Homo sapiens: one gene and its partners. The protein of the gene in region 1 purifies or fractionates together with the protein of each later gene. This does not show direct contact. Each region holds a gene or a part of one and is shown in the gene's direction. Other genes may lie near its edges.

The links.
Region 2: the proteins of MAP7 (region 1) and FYTTD1 purify together in Homo sapiens (affinity purification with mass spectrometry; one large-scale study listed by BioGRID and IntAct). This does not show direct contact.
Region 3: the proteins of MAP7 (region 1) and TNPO1 purify together in Homo sapiens (affinity purification with mass spectrometry; one large-scale study listed by BioGRID and IntAct). This does not show direct contact.
Region 4: the proteins of MAP7 (region 1) and CSE1L purify together in Homo sapiens (affinity purification with mass spectrometry; one large-scale study listed by BioGRID and IntAct). This does not show direct contact.

Annotation. Positions count from the first base shown.
Region 1 is NC_000006.12:136,540,182-136,544,170, reverse strand, and holds part of MAP7 (ensconsin), read left to right. Parts: intron 1-3,989. UniProt on the Homo sapiens protein: Microtubule-stabilizing protein that may play an important role during reorganization of microtubules during polarization and differentiation of epithelial cells. Associates with microtubules in a dynamic manner.
Region 2 is NC_000003.12:197,770,383-197,774,130, forward strand, and holds part of FYTTD1 (UAP56-interacting factor), read left to right. Parts: intron 1-3,020; coding exon 3,021-3,117; intron 3,118-3,748. UniProt on the Homo sapiens protein: Required for mRNA export from the nucleus to the cytoplasm. Acts as an adapter that uses the DDX39B/UAP56-NFX1 pathway to ensure efficient mRNA export and delivering to the nuclear pore.
Region 3 is NC_000005.10:72,819,661-72,823,408, forward strand, and holds part of TNPO1 (transportin-1), read left to right. Parts: intron 1-3,748. UniProt on the Homo sapiens protein: Functions in nuclear protein import as nuclear transport receptor. Serves as receptor for nuclear localization signals (NLS) in cargo substrates.
Region 4 is NC_000020.11:49,073,812-49,077,559, forward strand, and holds part of CSE1L (exportin-2), read left to right. Parts: intron 1-973; coding exon 974-1,039; intron 1,040-1,506; coding exon 1,507-1,709; intron 1,710-3,168; coding exon 3,169-3,253; intron 3,254-3,748. UniProt on the Homo sapiens protein: Export receptor for importin-alpha. Mediates importin-alpha re-export from the nucleus to the cytoplasm after import substrates (cargos) have been released into the nucleoplasm.

The DNA of each region.
Region 1 (3,989 bases):
GCGGGCAGATCGCTTGAGCTCAGGAGTTCGAGACCAGCCTGGGCAACATGGCAAAGCCCCATCTCTACTGAAAATACAAAAATTAGCCAGGTGTCGTGGCATACATCTGTAATCCGAACTACACAGGAGGCTGAGGCAGGAGAATTGTTTGAACCTGGGAGACGGAGGGTGTAGTGAGCCGAGATGGTAGCACCACATTCCAGCCTGGGCAACAGAGCATGACACCTTCTCGAAAAAAATAATTTGTGTGCAAAAAAAATTACGGATTTTCTTTTATTTTCTTTTTTTAGTTTTGTTGACTGTATAGGTAATGTAAGCACCACCGTTAACATTATCCCAAAGAGTCCTCTGCCTCCAACCTAAATTCCCTAATGCTGCACCTTTGTAGTGAGACTCTCTTCCTACACCTAACCCCTGGCAACCACTGATCTGTTTACCATCTTCCTAGTTTTGCCTTTTCCAGAATGTCATAAAAGTGGAATCATACATTGTGTAACCTTTTTTTCTTTTTTTTTGTGAGACGGAGTTTTACTCTTGTTGCCCAGGCTGGAGTGCAATGGCACAATCTCAGCTCACAGGAACCTCCTCCGCCTCCTGGGTTCAAGCGATTCTCCTGCCTCAGCCTCCCGGATAGCTGTGATTACAGGCATGTGCCACCATGCCCGGCTAATTTTGTATTTTTAGTAGAGATGGGGTTTCTACTAAACCCCATCAGGCTGATCATGAACTCCTGACCAAAGGTGATCCACCCGCCTCAGTATCCCAAAGTGCTGGGATTACAGGCGTGAGCCGCTGCACCCAGCCCCACATTGTGTAACCTTTTGAGTCTGAATTTTTCACCTGGCATCATGTTTTTGAGATTCAGGCACACTGTTGTGCATGTTAGGATGTGGTACATCCTTTTTCTTGATGAAGTAGTTTGCCATTGTATGGAAGTATCACAGATGGTTTATCAAAGAACATTTGAGTTGTTCCCGGGTTTTGGCAATTATGAATAATGCTGCTGTAAACACTTACCTACAGGTTTTTGTGTGAGCATAGTTTTCATCTATTCTGGGTAAATACCTAGGAGTGGGATTGCTGATTCATGTAACTGTATGTTTAACTTTATAAGAAATGGCCAAGCTTTTCCAGAGCAACTCTACGGTTTTACATTCTTACAAACAGTGTATGTGAGTTCTGGTTGCCCTGCATCCTCACTAATACTTAGTATCGTTAGTTTTGTTTGTTTTTAAAACTTTAGCCATTCCACCAAGTTCTTTGAGTAAAGCAATGTAATCACCTCAAAGTAAAATAGTGCCTTTTTAATGCTAACCCATGCTCACATGAATTAGGAAAGCCTGGAGGTGGTGTTGATCCCAGAGCCTAGGTATAATACGGAATTTATATTTGACTCTAATATCTTTATTCTCCTTCATTCTTTTTTCCCCACAGTATTTCTTTTTTTTTTTAATTTTAACACACCATTGCTTGCTTGAAGAGCCATAGTATCTCTTATTTCCTGTGGAGTATGCATTCTGAAGTTGATTATAGACGGAAGTGCCATTATATAGCACATTCCCTGCCAATTCAAGTTCTCTCTTCCTCCTTAATGGTCTCTGTTCTAATCCCTTGAGATATGGCTTTCTAGAACTTGGAAATAACTTGTTTTGTTGTTAGAAAGCTAGACATATTGTTCATATACTTTGTTTATTATCCTGATTAATTCCTTATTGGAACATCTTATATTGTCAAACTGAATACTTACCAGTTCTCAGATACAGTGCTTTGTAAAGCCTTGATAGTCTGTCATTGGACGTTTCATCAGTTGCTCATGGTCTAAGGTTCTGTAAGCTAAATGTGAATGGTATTTAGGCTTATACTTTTTTATAAAATTCAGTTTTAGGGTTTGTCTCGTTCTCTAGCGGTGATGTTGTCTACCTCTTTACTATCTTAGCTCTTGTAAAACTCTGAGTTACGGTTGTTGACACATTTAAATGGCATTTGGATTTTCTCTTCAGTAATTATTATTCTCTTTAGTATCTTTTTAATTTGAGAAATAGCCTGTTGAAAAAGATCTGTAAGATTTTTTTATTAGGTACCACTTTGAAATTTTTTTTAAATATATTTTTTGAGACAGAGTCTCGCTGTGTTGCCCAGGCTGGAGTGCAGTGGCACGAACTTGGCTCACGGTAACCTCTGCCTCCCAGGTTCAAATGATTCTTGTGCCTCAGCCTCCCGAGTAGCCGGGACTACAGGTGCCCACCACCATGCCCAGCTAATTTTTGGATTTTTAGTAGAGAGGGGGTTTTGCCGTGTTGGCCAGGCTTGTCTTGAACTCCTGAGCTCAAGCGATCTGCCCAACTCAGCCTCCTAAAGTGCTGGAATTACAGGTGGGAGCCACCACTCCCGGCTCCACTTTGAATTTTGATTTGAAGAGTAATATATAGTATTTGACACTGAGAAAAACTGCATTCAACTGTTCTTCATCCTTGATGCTCCTATAGAAATAGTTGTGAAAAAAAGAATCATGAGAAAGTGCCAAGGAGGATTGACACACCTGACCAGATGGCACAGAGGAGCACGGGGTATAAAACAATGCAGGGAGGAGGCTGGGAGCAGTGCACTTGGCATATGTGAGCTGCACTTCATAGGCACTGTTAGTAAATGATATATCTTTAAGTTTAGAGTATTGAGATTTGGGGTATCTTAAAATTTCTAATTCTGTGACTTTTAAAATTAAATGATATGTAAGCTTCCTTTTTGGAGTTGGCTTTCTAGTAAAGAGAACTATCCTTCACTATGGCATAACCTCTGAGTATAAAACTCATTTCCCCAACACTGTTGAATGTAGAAAAGTTCTCTAGGATCAGTTTAAATGTCAAGGTGAAGTTCTAGAAAGGAGCCCTTCCTTAGCACCTCCACCCCTCATCATGAAGCCTACTTGGTGGCAATAACATGCATAATAATTGGCTGTAAGATGTGTTCCTGTAGCAAAACTTTTGGCTGCTTCTCAAGATTCGAATCTGGGCTTCTGGTTCTCAGAAGCTCCTGACCCAAGCCTTTGGGGTGGCAGGCGCACCAGACAGGACCTGGTTGCTTACTTCTTGCATTCCAGCTGGACTGGTTTCTATTCATGGTAGATGCTCCAAATTAGTTCAGTGACAACTTCACCACAGGCGTGGTGGGTTCATTTAAATATGGGTCACTCCTTGACCCCAAGGTTATGTTGTTGAAATGATTATTGCGCCCATGTGCTGGAGTATCATTGATTCACATCATTGGCTCTCAATCTTGGCAGTGATTAAAAATCACCTGGGGACCATTTAAATATCAGGATGCCCAGGTGGCATCCAAGGTAATTATCTGAGAATCTTGCAGGATGGGAGTCAGGTGGCAGTGTTTTTAAAATTCCCCAGATGGTCTGGTGTGCAATCAGTGCTGAGAACTAATGATTCAGAACCATTTCCTATTGTATTCCCTTCCATTTGACTATTGTGGTGTGTGGTGTCAAGTGTGTGCACCTTGCTTATGGAAACCACATGGAAAATCGTAATAGCAATTGCCCTAAGTCTAGTGAGTTTACTCAGGTTGTCTCTTATTTTGCCCCAGGACTTTTTTGAAGGAAATATAGATGTGAATACAGTTATGAGTACAATTGAATAGCTAAGTATGCACACATATACTCAGTGTCCACATGTACGCACATTTCTGTATGAATATGTGCAGTGAGACAAAATACCATTCAGCTTTTGTTTTGACTTTGCCTAGCTCCTACACTGCCTTCCTCTCCCTCCTGCCCCTTAAAACCAGGAAAGGTTAAATTGGGGTAGATATTAAAGTATTTTGTAGAAAATTACATACTTTTCCCAGAGATCTTTCTAGTGACCCCTGACCTCTGATCACCAGGTCCCTGGCTCTGGAGACTGGACCTTGTTTCTTCTGTCTATAAATAGTTGACCCAAGTACGACCTTTTCCCTTCCGTGTGACCAGATGCTAATACCCTTCA
Region 2 (3,748 bases), on another chromosome or scaffold:
CATCCACATGGATGTATCCAGTAATAGCTTGTTTATTAGATGAATTCTTACTGATGAAGTTAACCGATATAAGCTTTTTAAAAAGCATCACTCTGCTTCTTTACCTCTTTGACATATGGAATAAAATTGCAAAAGCTGATCACTTTAGTAGAACTCTCTTTTTTTTCTCCCTGTTTTTTGAGACAGGGCTTCTCGATCTGTTGCTGAGGCTGGAGTGCAGTGGCGCCATCACTGCTCCCTGGAGCCTTGGCCTGCCCTGGGCTCAAGCGATCCTCCCACATCAGCCTCCTGAGTAGCTGGGACTGCAGATACATGCCACCATGCCCTGCTAATTTTTTTTTTTTTTTAATAGAGACAGGGTCTCACCATGTTGTCCAGGCTGGTCTCAATTCCTGGCCTCAAGTGATCCTCCCACCTCAGCCTCCTAAAGTGCTGGGATTACGGGCATGCGCCCCTGTGCCCAGCCCTGGTAGAACTCTTAACATCTTAGTGGGAATTATTCAAAATTGAGAATTCTGAAATCTCAATTTGTTACTCAGTCTGGATGGCTCTTACTAGAACACTGAATCACAATGTATGTTATTTGTGGAAAAATCAAACTAGAAAGGGAGAATTCTTCATGAACACTTGTTAAACTGAAATTATTTTTATACTAAATTGAATAATAAAAACCAAAAATTATGGCCTGTGAGCTGGGTGCAGTGGCATGTGCCTGTGGTCCCAGCTACTTACGAGGCTGAGGCAGGAGGATCACATGAGCCCAGGATTCAGGGCTAACCTGCTGGGCAACATAGTGAGACCCCCATCTCTGAAAAAGAAAGAAAAGAAAAATTATGATCTGTTGTTATGGCATTCTGTTCTCTGTAAGGACAAAGTAGATGAAGTTGATGAGGTGTGAAGTTTCCTTATTCAGTTTCAAGTATTATTTATTTATCTTTCGTGGAAGATAAGTCAGCAAAAAAAACCTGGAATGAGGTTTTTAAAAAATGCAGTGGCTGGGCACAGTGGCTCATGCCTGTATTCCCAGCACTTTGGGGGGCTAAAGCAGGCAGATCACCTGAGGTCAGGAGTTATGTGGCAAAACCCCATCTCTACTGAAAATGCAAAAATTAGGCCGGGTGCGGTGGCTCACGCCTGTAATCCCAGCACTTTGGGAGGCCGAGGCGGGCGGATCACGAGGTCAGGAGATCGAGACCATCCCGGCTAAAAACGGTGAAACCCCGTCTCTACTAAAAATACAAAAAATTAGCCGGGCGTGGTGGCGGGCGCCTGTAGTCCCAGCTACTTGGGAGGCTGAGGCAGGAGAATGGCGTGAACCCGGGAGGCGGAGCTTGCAGTGAGCCGAGATCCCGCCACTGCACTCCAGCCTGGGCGACAGAGCGAGACTCCGTCTCAAAAAAAAAAAAAAAAAAAAATGCAAAAATTAGCCCGATGTGGTGACCGGTGCATGCCAGCAATCCCAGCACTTTGGGAGGCCGCTGCGTGTGGATCACCTGAGGCCAGGAGTTCGAGACCAGCCTGGCCAACATGGTGAAACCCCATCTCTACTAAAAATACAAAAATTAGCTGGACGTGGTGGTTCATGCCTGTAGTTCCAGCTATTTGGGAGGCTGAGGCAGGAGAATCGCTTAAACCTGGGGGGCGGAAGTTGCAGTGAGTCAAGATGGTGCCACTGCACTCCAGCCTGGGTGACAGTGAGACTCTGTCTCAAAAAAATAAAAATAAAAAAACAAAAAATGGAATGGCTGGAATTGCAGTTTTAACCATCATCTTTTGGGAATCACTTGATAGTACCTTTTGTGAAAGGGGACCTTCTCAAATAAGAACCCATCATTTACGTGAGACTTACATGTTAATTGGGTTAGCTAGGGCAGTTTTGAACTTGAATCTCTGAAAGATTGGAGGTAAGACTAGGGAATCTGTTAAACACTCGTTTATATAGTGTTTCATATTTATCAATACATCAGTTGAAGACATGGAATGTTAGAGGATTGAATATTTCATAGATAAATATGAAATTTTAATTTTTCGTACTTCACTAACTTCCTATAGAAAACAAAAGAAATTAGGTGCCGCAAACCACCATGGCACATGTATAGCTACATAAGAAACTTGCACGTTCAGCACGTGTCTCAGAACTTAAAATTAAAAAAAAGAATTGGTGACAGTCATAATTAAGAGCATTGTTCTGTGCATGAAAGAACAAGAAATAGAAGAGTATAAGTTTTTCTGTGGTTTGTATATTTTTTGAGATGAAGTCTGTGTCGCTGGGCTGGAGTGCAGTGGCGTGATCTCGGCCCACAGCAACCTCTGCTTCCCTGATTGAAGCAATTCTCATGCTTCAGCCTCCTGAGTAGCTGGGACTACAGGCGTGTGCCACCAAGGCTGGCTAATTTTTGTGTTTTTAGTAGAGACGGGGTTTTACCATGTTACCCAGGCTGGTCTCAAACTCCTGACCTCAAGTGATCCACTCACCTCAACCTCCCAAAGTGCTGGGATTACAGGTGTGAGCCATAATGCCTGGCCTCTATGGTTTATGTTAATACATAATGGTTTCTGAGTGAGGAAGGAAGAGAAAGCTGGAGGAGGAGATGTTATTTTTCAAACCTTTCTCTTTATTTTTGGTCTTCAGTTTATTTTACGTCTTCAGTTTGGCCTATGTGTGGTTTTTCTTTGTACTAATCCTATAAATTGTAAAGTTATGTTTTCACCAAATATAGGAAATAGCACTAAAAATGTGATTATTAATGTCTTCAGAAGATATATGGGATATTAGAGGATTGAATATTTGGAAGATAAAGTGGTTTGAAATTAACACGTGGTTATGTGCTATGCTTCGGAGGGAGGTATTTGTTAATCAAATCTCAGTAGCTTCATGTTAATAAGCAAATAATTCAGAGTTGTTTGTTTCTTGCACCTCATGTTTGCAGCCTATGAATTTAACTATTTTTGCTTATTTTTCCTCAAGATGTTTGAAAGTAGTTAAATGGCTTAGCATGGCCTATGTGTTTTTGTTGCAGAAATAACATTCCAGCTAATTTTACCAGGAGTGGAAATAAATTAAATCATCAGAAAGATACTCGTCAGGCAACTTTTCTTTTCAGAAGAGGCCTGAAGGTATTTAAAAACTTTGGCAGTGTTTTTGTTTGTTTGTTTGTTTTTTCCCAAAGAGGATCCTGAGCAGCCACCTTTAGTAAGCCTCAGTCATAGGCAGCATTGGGTTCAGGATGTGAGGCACGTGGTAGTAGATTAGTTCTTCCTGTTGTATGTTTTTTATTTCCCATCTTTTCTTACCCTCAATAGCAATGTCTTATAAGAATTTAACTCGTTATTTGGGAATAAACCTGTATTTGCCACTCGTTCTCATGTAGGAATTCCAACAGGGAACTGTTGCCAGAATAGCGTGGGCCCCTCTGCTGCACTCACGCACACACCCCACTGGGTTAGGAAGTTCTAGAATAGCACGGGCCCCTCCGCTGCACTCACGCACACGCCCCACTGGGTTAGGAAGTTCTAGAATAGCGCGGGCCCCTCCGCAGCACTCACGCACACGCCCCACTGGGTTAGGAATTTCTAGAATAGCGCGGGCCCCTCCGCTGCACTCACGCACACGCCCCACTGGGTTAGGAAGTTGTAGAATAGCGCAGGCACCTCCGCTGCACTCATGTACACGCACCACTGGGTTAGGAAGTTCCAGAGCAGGATCGCTCTTTGGATTCAAATCCTCTGCTTTCTGTGGTACCTACTG
Region 3 (3,748 bases), on another chromosome or scaffold:
TAAAGTTGGGATTGATATATGCCTTTTTAATGGTTAAATTTTTAAAACAAAGCAAAACTTTTCAATGTAGTGTAGAGAACAGGCGCTTTGGAGCCACACTATTTGGATTCAGATTTTGGCACCTTCTGTAATTATCTGTGTGACCTTGGGCAAGTTATTTAATCTCACTTTTTCATCTTATGTTATGAGGATTAAATGAGTTAATACACTAAGCTCTTAAAACTGGGCCTGACATGTATTAACTTTTCTATAAATAATAACTGCTGTTATCATCAATGTCATTATCACTGTTAATTATTTCAGAAAACTATAGAAAACCATAAAATAAAAATTACAAATATCAGTACTACGTAGTAACTACTGTAAGCCCTTTTGCGCATTTCCTTCCAATGTTTTTTTCTGAGTTTATTGGATTTTTTTCACAGTTGAGACTTTACTATGTGAGTAATTTTGTATTCTCACCATAAGCATTTTCTTATGCTACTTAATTATTTTGTCACCATATTTAATGTTTGCATGTTTGTGTGGATTTCTCATTATTAAACAGTTTCTAATTTTTTTGCAGTTATAAGAAACACTGCAATGAACATCCTCATACAAAAATCAATTTCTGCATTCTGGATTATTTAGAGTCCCCAAAGCAAAAATACTGAGTCAAAGTAAACATCCAAAGCTCATGGTCCATACTGCAAATTGCTTTTACTTAAGGGAATTTAATAATGAACTTATTAATATAATAAATTGAGACTACACAGTATTGTTCCTGTTGCTTTGGGATTGGAGGAATAGAGAGTGGATTAACGTTTTCCTTGTAATGTACTAGACATCATTTGTAGGCATTTAACATACATTGTCACTTTCATGTACATTTTTCTCATTTATTATGTTGGCTCTGTGTTATACATGGAAGTTACTTCTATTTTACTGATGAGAAAACAAAGTGTAAATAGGTAAGTACTTTGTCCAAGGGCTCAGAGCGTTCGAGCCTGAATCTGAATCTAGATCTGCTTGACTGCAAAGCTCATCATGCTGTTTTATTTGTATACTTTTATATCATATACATATTCAGAATTTTATACTATAACTAACTATAGATCACAGACCACATTTTTAAGATAGCTAAACTGAGCTGGGAATAATGAATGGGTAAGTTGCAAAGTTAAACAAGACAGGGCTTAACTTTCCACATTTTAGAAAAAGAAAATCTTTACCTGGATGAGATATAATTGGTAACAACTATATAAAACCGGGTTCTAAAGTGAATGCACCAAATATCTGTGGGTGCAATTCTTAATGATCTTAACACAAATAGGTGAGAGAAAACCAAAGAAATCTCAAATTTGATTAAATTTGGGGAATAAGAGAAATGAAAAGGCCCGTAAGTGCTAAAATTGAAATATACGTTTAGTAAAACTCCTGGTAAAGTAAATGAAGGTTTTACTGGGGAAACAAGCAAAAAAATATGTGTTTCACATAAGGAGAATAGAACTGCCTACAAGGTGTAGGAAGTTAAATTTATACTGAAAATTAGAGAAAAATTCATATTTGAGTTGCATTTTATAGATGACTCCGAAGCCATTAGTAAAATAATTTATTAGTGGAGCCCCTTTATCCTAGATGCATATGTTTCTACCACAAATGAAAAAGTTAATGCTAGGAAGGATAAGATTCCACCACTTTTGTTTTTACTAAGAAAGGAATTAAGGAAGAGAAGTATTTCAGCAAATCATGAATATACTAAATAAATGCAAATAAATTATTAGGAATAGGTGGTATCCAACAAGATTTTAAAGATAAGAATATAAAAGTACAGAACTATTGATTATTATGCTACCATTTGAAATTGTGTTTTTGAAAAATATTTAATGAAATTAAATATATATTTTGACTGGAGCATAGCAGAACTAGGAAATGATGAGAGAGCTAGCAAACCATGAAGGACTTTTGTGCCATTTATTAGTGCTGGGATTATCTCTTGTCGAGAGATTTACATACTAGTGGAGAAAGAGATATGTAAATAAACAAGTTCAATAAGTGTATTTACAGCTTTTGTGATATAAATCTGTAAAAACACCAAGAAAGGCCAGTAATAGATTCGTTGAATAGATTAGGGGGAATGTCTGGAGCATTTTGGGAACTAGGAACAGCATTTCAGTGAGTGTGTCAGTAAACATAAAGATCTGCTGTGTTCTTGGAACTCTTAAGCGGTTCAGGGGCCCTGAAAGGTATATAGCAGGGGTCCACAAACTTTCTGTAAAGGGCCAGGTAGCAAATATTTTCTGCTTTGTGGGCCATACCATCTCTACCACTGTAGTGCAAAAACAGTTATGAAACCAATGGTATGGCCAGATTTGACTAAGGTCTTAATTAGACAAACTCTAATATATAGTAGAGAGGGATGTTGAAGAGAGAGAACCTACTGAGCCTTATGTCACCCTATCATGAGCCATTGAAAGATATGAAACGAATCTAGAAGATTGATTTGTATGAATCATTAAGAGCAGAATAAAATAGATTTTTAAAGCACTCTACATCGATTTAAAAGGGAAAACAACTCAGTTTTTTAAGTGGGCAAGTTCCACAGAAGAGGAAATATGGCTAGCAGGTAAACATGGAATAATGATTTACCTCACCAGCAGAAAAATGCAAAGTAAAGCAGTGACTTTTTTTTTTTTCTCATTATACTGGCCAAAGAGAAAAAAGTTTTGTTAGTATGTATTGAGAAGGTTGTAGGGATAACATTGAATATATCGGTACGGCTATTTTAAAGTAAAAATATCTTTGACCCAGCAGTTTCCATTTCTTAGAGAAACACGTGAGTATATCAGGAGTCATGTGTGCTAGGATTAGTCCTTGTTAGTAACCACAGAAACTCCAGACTTCCTGTTCACATTTTGTCTCTGGCATTCCATTCATAAAAAGTTCTACACTTTTTTTTTTTTTTTTTTTGGAGATGGAGTCTCGCTCTGTTGCCCAGGCTGGAGTGCAGTGGCATGATTTCGGCTCACTGCAACCTCTGCCTCCTGGGTTCAAGCAATTCTCCTGCCTCAGCCTCCCGAGTAGCTGGTACTACAGGCACACATCGCCATGCCCAGCTGATTTTTTGTATTTTAGTAGAGATGGGGTTTCACTGTGCTGTGCAGGCGTGTCTCCAACTTCTGACCTCAGGCAATCCGCCCACCTTGGCTTCCCAAAGTGCTGGGATTACAGGTGTGAGCCACTGCGCCCGGCCTGGCCTGGGTCTACACTTTTTTTTTTTTTTTTTTTTTTTTGGAGACACAGTCTAGCTCTCTTGTCCAGGCTGGAGTGGGGTCTATGCTTTTTCTTAAACCTCTTCTCAACTTTTCATACCCTTCTACTGTACTTTGTGAAATTAACTATCCATCATCTGCAAAATCCAGTCTGAACCATTCTTAGATGTTGCTTTCACTTTCTTGCTGTAATGGAAACCGGACTCTCTTCCACTGTGCAGTTGTGGCTGTTTTTGTTTGTTTGCTCCGTAACTTTCCTCCCACTGTTTCTAGAGGTGGGAAAGATATCTGTCATGAGTCTTCTTACTTCTTTCAGACTATGCTTCCTCCTTTCTCCCTATAATCTTCAGTTTTGAATTATGTCATAAAGGCCCACTGTCCCACTCTCCAGTCTTTATATTGAAATTGATAAGAATGTACATAACTGATCCACCCAAACCCTGGCCTCTCACTTCCTAGACCTCTCTTCCAGTGCTCTTCCCATCTATGCTATATCA
Region 4 (3,748 bases), on another chromosome or scaffold:
TATTAGATCAGTGGTTTTCAAATTACATCTGGAACAAAATAAGGAAATTAAGGACAATATAGCGTGAGATTTTATTTCCTGTTGTGTTTTCATAAAAATATGTTTAAAGGATAAATCTTCTGGCTGGGTGTGGTGGCCCATACCTTTAATCCCAACACTTTGGGAGGCTGAGGTGGGAGGAACACTTGAGCCCAGGAGTTAAAGACCAGCCTGGCCAAAATGGCAAAACCTTATCTCTACAATAAATAAATTAGTTGGGTATGGTGGCATGGGCCTGTGGTCCCAGGTACTCAAGCAGCTTAGGTGGGAGTTTTGCTTGAGCTCAGGAGGTGGAGGCTGCAGTGAGACATGATCATACAACTGCAGTGTGTGTGTGTGTGTGTGTGTGTGTGTGTGTGTGTGTGTGTAGACTTTTTTTTTTTTTTAATTTATATGATAAAAATAGAGATGAGATCTCGCTGTGTTGACCAGGCTGGTCTCAAACTCCTGGGCTCAAGCGATCCTCCCATTTCAGCCTCCCAAAGTGCTAGGTTACACGCGTGAGCCACCATGCCGGCCATTTCTGACATTGTCCACTCTACTTATTTGTTGTTGAAATGACTTTAATGAAATAATAGTGATTAAAATTAGGTTGTTGGTATTTTAATGTTCTTATTTGGTGAAATTAAAAGTTAGCATTCTGATACTGATCCCTAACATTTTTGACAGTTGCAGGTATAATCCAATTCTGGGGAAACTGTCACATTAGAACAAGTGAGCCTATCTCATAGTTGTGTGAATTACCTAATACCTCACCTTTCAGGGTAGCATTTGCTGCTCTAGATAATGATTAAGAGTATATGAAGTAGTCATCTGATGGGAACGAATTCTTTGCTGTAGAACAAGGCAGTTTTACATACTCTTCTGCATTCTCAGCTGTAAAGTACAGTGACGTCTTTTGGAGTGTTATCTGAAATATCATCTCTCCTTGTAGCTGCTGATGAAGAAGCATTTGAAGATAATTCTGAGGAGTACATAAGGAGAGATTTGGAAGGATCTGGTGTGTATCTTGGTTTTTTAGTTACTAGTCTCTTAGCAAGCCAGTTTTAAGGTGGTTCTCTTTCTAGTAAATGGGAGAAGTGGGATTGAGAATAAGAGTGTTTTTTCAGCGGGCTTTCATTGAGAACTGTTGTCTTTCTTCAACTTGTCTTAAAAAGCTCTTATATGACCTGAATGAAAATATCAAAAGTTGAATCATTTGTCTGTTCTTACATAGTATTTATCAAAATTCTGTGATTCTGTGACCTCTTTAGTTTCATTTTGATTTTGTATTTCTTGGGGGCGGGAATGTTTTTTTCATTGTTTGTGTTGCTGATAGCTATTGGGTGGCCCTTTGTTTTTCGTTCTTTTTTTTCCGTTTTACAATCGTAGCCAAATTATTCCAGGCAATTTGTTTTCTTATAAATTGGATCAGCTTGTTGGTGGTTGTTTTTTTTCCCCATAATATATTTTCTTTTCATTTCATAGATATTGATACTAGACGCAGGGCTGCTTGTGATCTGGTACGAGGATTATGCAAGTTTTTTGAGGGACCTGTGACAGGAATCTTCTCTGGTTATGTTAATTCCATGCTGCAGGAATACGCAAAAAATCCATCTGTCAACTGGAAACACAAAGATGCAGCCATCTACCTAGTGACATCTTTGGCATCAAAAGCCCAAACACAGAAGGTAAATATTTTTAATGTGGTTTTGTTTCTAAAACAGACATCAGTGACACCCACACAAGTCAAAAAGAAATAACGTCTCTGATAATAGAGCTTACTCTGCCAGATAACCTATTCTGATTAAGATTTATATAATCTCTGAAGATGGCTTTATGTTGATGTATTGAGCACTTAAGTTTCTTATAGACCAGAAAATTGATAGATGGCCACACTTGTTACCTTAGCTGAGACCCGCTGTATCAAATATGCTTAACTTAAACTTAGCTGTTCTTTAATTGAGGAAAGTTTCTTTATTGTCTATTAGTATAGTCTTATTTTACATTTTTATATTTTTGAGATGGAGTCTCACTTTGTCACCAGGCTGGAGTGCAATGGCGTGATCTCAGCTCACTGCAACCTCCACCTCCCGAGTTCGAGCGACTCTCCTGCCTCAGCGTCCCAAGTAACTGGGATTACAAGTGTGCACTACCACACCTGGCTAATTTTTGTATTTTTAGTAGAGACAAGGTTTCACCATATTGGTCAGGATGGTCTCAAATTCCTGACCTCGTGTGATCCTCACACCTCAGCCTCCCAGAGTGCTGGGATACAGGTGTGAGTCACCGTGCCTAGACAGTATAGTCTTATTTTATATTTTATACATAAGCAGGTTGTGTTTTGTTGTTGTTGTTTTGTTTTGTTTTGTTTTGAGACGGAGTTTCGCTCTTGTTGCCCAGGCTGGAGTGCAATGGCACGATCTTGGCTCACCGCAACCTCCGTTTGCCGGGTTCAAGTGATTCTCCTGCCTCAGCCTCCCGAGTAGCTGGGATTACAGGCATGCGCCACCACCCTGGCTAATTTTGTATTTGTAGTAGAGATGGGGTTTCTCCATGTTGGTCAGGCTGTTCTTGAACTCCTGACCTCAGGTGATCCACCTGCCTTGGCCTCCCAAAGTGCTGGGATTACAAGCATGAGCCACCATGCCTAGCCTAAGCAGTTCATGTTTTGAAGTGTCCCTCTCTCTCTTTTTTTTTTTTTTTTTTTTTTTTTTTGAGACGTTGTCTTGCTCTGTCATCCAGGCTGGAATGCAATGGCAACATCTCAGATTACTGCAACCTCTGCCTCCCGGGTTCAAGCAATTCTCATGCCTCAGCCTCCCGAGTAGCTAGAATTACAGGTGCATGCAACTACACCTGGCTAATTTTTTGTGTTTTTAGTAGAGACGGGGTTTTGCCATGTTGGCCAGGCTAGTCTTGAACTCCTGACTTCAAGTGATCTACCCGCCTCGGCCTCCCAAAGTGCTGGGATTACAGCCGTGAGCTCCTGTACACAGCCAGTACAGTCTCATTTTATACATAAGCAATTTGTATTTTGAAGTGTTCATCTCCATTTTAACATGGTTTTCTAAAATTGCCTGAATTTCTAATGTGATAGATATATACAGGTATTTTGTTATTTTACTATGTTATGAATTTGCTTTTCAGCATGGAATTACACAAGCAAATGAACTTGTAAACCTAACTGAGTTCTTTGTGAATCACATCCTCCCTGATTTAAAATCAGCTAATGGTGAGTTGTGAAATTCTTGCTTTTTTTACAGCTTGCCACACTATACCTGAATTCAAAAAACAGCTTCCTATCCTTGTTCCCTTTTGTTCTTTTTTTTTTTTTTTTTTTCTTTTGAGATGGTGTCTTACTCTGTTACCCAGGCTGGAGTGCAGTGGCACAGTCTCTGCTCACTGCAACTCCTGCCTCCTGGGTTCAAGCGATTCTCCTGCCTCAGCTTCCCAAGCAGCTGGGACTACAGGCACGTACCACCATGCCCGGCTAATTTTTGTATTTTTAGTAGAGACGGGGTTTCCCCATGTTGGCCAGGCTGGTCTCAAACTCCTGACCTCAGGTGATCCACCTGCGTCGGCCTGCCAAAGTGCTGGGATTGCAGGCGTGAGCCTCCATGCCCTGCCTATTATTTCTTTTATTGAATAAAATCTCAAATGGTTTCCCCAGATCTTGTCCATGTGAAATTAATTATTGATAAAGAAAATATTGCTTGATTAGGAGGAA